2 separate regions of the Homo sapiens genome follow, and region 1 is linked to region 2. A link means that fine-mapping ties the variant in region 2 to the expression of a gene that starts in the linked region. Tissue or cell type: whole blood. Region 2 holds a variant in brackets; the other region holds the start of a gene. All regions are shown on one strand. Distances are from middle to middle.

Evidence for each region. PIP is the estimated chance that this variant, and not a neighbour inherited with it, causes the effect.
Region 1: DRC1 starts here. The variant in region 2 is fine-mapped to the expression of DRC1 in whole blood (TOPMed, PIP above 0.99).

Annotation. Positions count from the first base shown.
Region 1 is chr2:26,400,724-26,403,479 of GRCh38, reverse strand. DRC1 (dynein regulatory complex subunit 1) reads right to left here and starts at 1,560. Exons shown (of 17, transcript NM_145038.5): 1 at 1,336-1,560. The coding sequence starts at 1,490.
Region 2 is chr2:26,454,732-26,457,478 of GRCh38, reverse strand. DRC1 (dynein regulatory complex subunit 1) reads right to left here. Exons shown (of 17, transcript NM_145038.5): 15 at 2,689-2,747; 16 at 2,246-2,348; 17 at 768-1,018. The coding sequence ends at 962. It overlaps OTOF (otoferlin), which reads left to right. Exons shown (of 47, transcript NM_194248.3): 47 at 1-276. Among named protein-coding and RNA genes, the nearest start is that of DRC1, 54 kb to the right of the region's middle. The variant ACG/G (reference allele first, on the strand shown) is at 1,537.

The DNA.
Region 1 (2,756 bases), 54 kb after region 2:
TTACAATTCTAAATGGTTAATAAATAAATGGTTAAAAAAAGACTAGGATGAATAAGCAGAGCACAGGGGATTTTTAGGGCAGTAAAAATATTTGGTATAATACTATACTGGTGGGCTCGTGTCACCATAAATTTATCCAAACCCATAGGATGTACAACACCAAAAAGAAACCCTAAGGTAAACAATGGAGTTCAAGTGATAACGATGCGCCAAGGTTCATATATTGTTACAAATGTGCCCTCCAGTGCAGGATGTTGACAGTAGCTGTGCATGTGTGGGGGCAGGGAGTATATGCGAATGCTATACTTTTTGATCAGTTTTGCTGTGGTCCTAAAAACTGCTCTAAAAAATAAAGTTTATTATTATTTTTTATCAAAAGAAGGCTATTTTGTGATACATGAACAGTATATGAAATTCAAATTTCAGTGTCCATAAATAAAGCTTTATTGGAACACAGTCATGCCCATTTGTTTATGTCTTGCCTGTGGCTGCTTTTGCAATACAATGGCAATTGAGCAGCTAGGAAAGAGGCCATATGATCCGAAAAGCCTAAAATATTTACTATTTGGCCCTTTACTGAAAGGGTTTGCCGGCCCCTGCATTCCACTGATGGCCCCGCAGCAATCAGCCAGGGTGAGCGAGTGATGGAAACACACTGCAGGGCTTGGTAAGACATGTGTGCTCCAGACGGTGGGCAATCAACCCTATGAAGGCCCAGGGACTGCCATGTCATTCAAGTTTGTAGGGGTCCAGTGGTCAGTGGGATGCTGGGATAGCCTATCAAGTAAAAAACAAATCTACTGCATTTTGCATCCTCTACAGAGAAGGAAACTCAATGCCTCTTAGGCCACTTTGGGTCCTAGAGACAATACATCCCGCACTTAGGAATATTATTCAGGCTGACACAAAAAGCTGCCAGCTTTGAGTGGTGCCTGGAACAAGAAAGGACCCAGGCCACAGTGTAAGCAGCCAGGCTACTTGGGCCACATGATCCAGCAGACCCTGTGGTTTGGAGGTGTCCGTAGTGGAAAAGATGCCATGTGCAGACCACAGTCGAACGCCACCACGCCCGATTAATTGTTTGATGTTTTATAGAGATGGGGTCTCTCTATGCTGCCCAGGTTGACCATCTCCAACTCCTGGGCTCCAGTGATCGGCCCGCCTCGGCCTCCCTAAGTGCTGGGATGACAGGCGCGCGCCACGGCACCGGCCCAGCGTTTTACTTTCCCATACTCTGCCTGAACCTTCCCGAAGAAATGTTTCTATTTCATCAGGAAACCAGCCCTTCTCCGGCTCCTGCGGCGCGGATCCCGCCCCGCCCGCCCCCGCGCTCACCGCCTCCGGGCTTCTAAGCGCGCAGCGATGCGGAGGCGCCGGGCCTGGATGCGCTCCTGAGAGTTGTCGGAGTGGACCGAGGGCGCGAGAATCTGGGTGGACAAGTGCTCGTCCACGTTCGGGTCCAGGGCCTCTAGGGACCCCGGCGGATTCATGGCAGGAGTCCCTGGTCCCTAGGCGGCTCCCTCCGCACCACCTCCAGACCTCAGGCTGGTTGCTAGGAACAAACCGTTGCCAGGGAGAGCGGTCACCGGAGCCACAGCCCGAGTGGTTGCGCGCGCAGCTCCCTGGGCCCAGCCTGCCGCCAGCCGCCGTTCCGGCCGAGCATCCCAGCCTCGGGCTGACGCCTCTCCCGCCCGTGGGATGTCAGGTCTGTTGTCAGGCCCACGAAGGCCCGGTCGTGTTAGCGGAGCTGTGGAGTCTCACCAGGAGACTAGAGGACTAAAGAACTGGACCAAGTTGTGGTTCATCACTTGCTGACCCTGATGATTAATTCATCTTCCATTCATTCATCAAATATTCCTCCAACTCATATTCACCAAATAAAATTGAGCGCCTACTCGATGCCAAGCGCTGTGCTTGGATACAGGATACCAACCTGCAATCAAATACTTATGAAAGAGGAAAAGTGGAATAGAGGAAAACAGTCCGTGGGAGGGGGGAGGGATAAAAGTTAGAAATGCGGAAGCACTATTAAATTCTCAACTGTCCCCAGAAAGGCGCTATCTTCTGGGCGTCTCATTGTCAACAAAAATAGTGTTCTCATTGAGAATTAAAACCTGGCGCGCTGGCTCATGCCTCAGCCTCCCAACACTTTGGGAGGCCGAGGTGGACAGATCACTTGAGGTCAGGAGTTTGAGACCAGCCTGGTGAACATGATGAAACCCCGTCTCTACTAAAAATACAAAAATTAGCTGGGTATGGTGGTGGGCACCCATAATCCCAGCTACTCGGGAAGCTGAGGCAGGAGAATCGCTTGAATCTGGGAGGTGGATGTTGCAGTGAGCCGAGATCGAGCCACTGCACTCCATCCTGAGCAATAGAGCAAGACTCTGTCTCAAAAAAACCCAACCAACCAACCAAACAAAAACTGGATACCATTTAACAGGGTTCTGTCCCATTAGCCCGTGGGGAATTAAGGGCACTGGATGAGCAGTGAGAAAGGGTGAGTACTAGTCCTAGCCCTGCCCTGCCACCTTGGGCAAGTCACAACTTCTTGAGGAGCATTTTCTCAGCTGTTAAATGATGCAACCCACAGACAACTGTGCGGCCAAGACGACCCGTCCTTTGTGAGTAAGAACTGCCCAGAGGCAAATGGAGTGGGTTTTTAAAATCAGTTCTTCCACGTTTGCAAGCAGTAGAGAGGTTTAGGAATGCCAAAACCATCCAACAGCTATAGAGTCTAACAGCAGCTGCCTGGA
Region 2 (2,747 bases):
GTCCTGCCTGTGGGTTTCCATGGCTTCCCAGAGCTCCCTCTGCCCCAGCCAGCGCCTCCAGGCCCAGCTGAGGAGCTGTGAGAAGCAGCAGAGGGGACTCCCCATCCCGGGCACACCCTGTCCTCCCACCCCTGCCCCCTTGCCCTTCCAGCCCTTTCAGCTGCAGCTGGGAGCTGGCCCGTCAAGTGCTGCCCCTGCCTGTGTCTGGGTTTCTGTTGGCTGTTTTTCTTTTCTTGAGTGGTGATTTTTCTCTAAATAAAAGAAGTCAAGCACTGAGCTGACAGGTCTGCACTGGTCAAGCTGAGAGGAGCAGCCGCAGGTGCGGGGCAGAGGCAGCAGTTCTCTAGGCTGGCAGATTCAGTACCAGCAGGGCTCCCATGGCCTTTCCCCTTCAAGTGGCCTCTGGTGGCCCAGGGTTCAAGGCAGGCCTCAGGCACAGGGCTGCCCACCCAGGCTGCCCACAGGAGGAGTCTTACACCATAGCCCAAAGGGCACACCAGCCTGGGCCCAGGGGCCCCCAAAGCACCGAAAGAATCCTTCAGGTCTGGGGCCAGTCTGAAGGCTTAAGGCCCCACAAGGGCCCAAAAGCTCTAGCCTCCACCCACAGAAACCAGTTCCCCTGAAAGCAAGAAAGGAGCCCCACGCTACTGGCCTCGGCCTCTGACTCACACCACTATCTGAGCCTGGGGCAAAGTCCCCTCATGACACAGAGGTAGGGGCAAGGGCCTGGTCTTGCTAGACCTGACCTCTTTAAAGAGATTCAGCCACAACTTTAAAAGGCTTTAATCATAATGCAGGACACAGGTAACTCCTCTGGCTCCTTATTTCGACAGGCTATAAAGACAGCCCTGGAAAATCCAGAGAGCAGGCCCAGGTGCGGCCCAGTGGGTGATATGAGCTGGCTCCGGCACAGACACCAGCATCAGGCCAGCCCTAACACATCAGCCTTTGGCGGTCCAGCTCATTTTGTGGGTACCCGCAACACCTGAGTGGGAGGAACTTGCAGTTCAGAGTTGATCTGGAAAAGAAAGGGTGAAAGTCGTTACATTTTTCCCAGGGCCCTCCTTCTTTGCCACCCTTGCGAGCCACGCTGGCTCTCCCATGGGCCTCCAAAGCCCTGCACGCATCTCCTCTCCAAAGCTGAGAGATGCTGAACACCCACAGACTGCCTCCCTGCAGGAGACACGCCTGAGCCTTCTTGCTCAGCTTCTGCTCCAGCTGTGACCTCTGGTAGCGTTCTTCATCTCCCGCCCGTCCATTCTCTGCAGTCTTCCCCTCTCCTCTCTCCACGCACCCATGCCATCCCCAATCTAGCCTGCCCCACCTCTTCCTCCCCCAGCCTCTTGTATACAGTAGCATCTGTGGAAGCGGGAACCATACCGTCCAGAATGTCTGGGTCCTGTCACAGGCCAAGGGTCATTATGAGGCCAAGGTTCACTACAACATCCCACTTTCAGCTGTGGCCTGGGACCTGGGACTGTGCTGGGGCCACGCAGCCCCTGTGGCTGGACTTGGAGCTGGCCTCAGTCACCTCAC[ACG/G]TGTGCAACTAACAGCTGCGTCACGACCTTCCTGGCCTACAGCCCCAGCTGCAGGTGCCCACACCCGCAGAGCAGGAAATGTCAGCAATGGACTTTTTCCTTCCTCCTCTTGCCAGGCCATGGGGAAGTTGTCCACAACTATTGCAGGGTTGGGCACAGATGGGGGCCAGGGAATATCTGCCCCAGCAGAGCCTCCTTCCCCATGCGAGGATGACCCTCCAGTCATATCCCAGGCAGGGAACCGGGGCTGGTGGGTGGAAAGAGCCCAGGCTCTGGACGAGTTGCAAACTCTGCAAGTTGTGATTGTCCTTTGTGTGAAATGAGGAGCATTGTTTCCGCCCTGTCCACCTCACACAGCGGGTGTGAGGATGGAAGAAGAGAGCACAGCTGGAGGCTCTGTAGCTGGGGAGCTGCTCCTGGCTGTGGCACTGCTTCACACAGAGCAGTCCCAGCTGGCCACTGGCACCAGAAACCACAGTATCAAAGAGACACTGTCACACCTGAGCTGTCCTGGAGGAGACTTCAGGCAAGATCTACTCCTTTGGCCAGTAGTTGTCTCAAGGTGCCACTCTTGATTTTTTACATCATATCACAAAGCTCCCTTGCCTCTGACGGGGAGGGGACTCCTCGTTCCCTAATCCCAGCTCCAGTGCCCCTGCCCCACCCGTGTCTCCCGCTGCCCCTCCTTGGAAGGCCCCGCCGCCCACCTTGGAGTTCAGATACTGCTGCAGTAGCGCCTGCAGCTCTGTGTTCTGCTGCTCCAGAGAACTGTTTTCCAGCAGCAGCTTGGCCCTCTGGGTCAGGACAAGGCTTTGGACAGAAAAATCGGTTAGAGGCTCACTGAATCCTCCATCCTCTGCCAAGTAGGGGCCAGGGTCTTGGTGGTTGTACTTTGGCTACAGGTGGAGGGAGACTCCAGAAGCTACACTCTTCACCCAGCCGCCAGGTGAGCCAGGTTAGCAGGAACAGAACAGGCAGGCCAGGGCCCAAGAGCCAACTGCCCCACATGATCCACCCACACAGGAGATGCCAAGGGCAGCTCTTCCCTCCCAGGTTCAGTGGGACAGGGAGGCAGCAAACGCGGCTGCTCCCAACAACCGTTCCTCACCTGCCCGCCAGCACCCTCCTGCTCCATGACATGCACACTTACTGGTACTTCTCCAAGGCTGTGTAGAGGGCATCCCAGAGGTTCTGCTTGGAGGAAGGGAT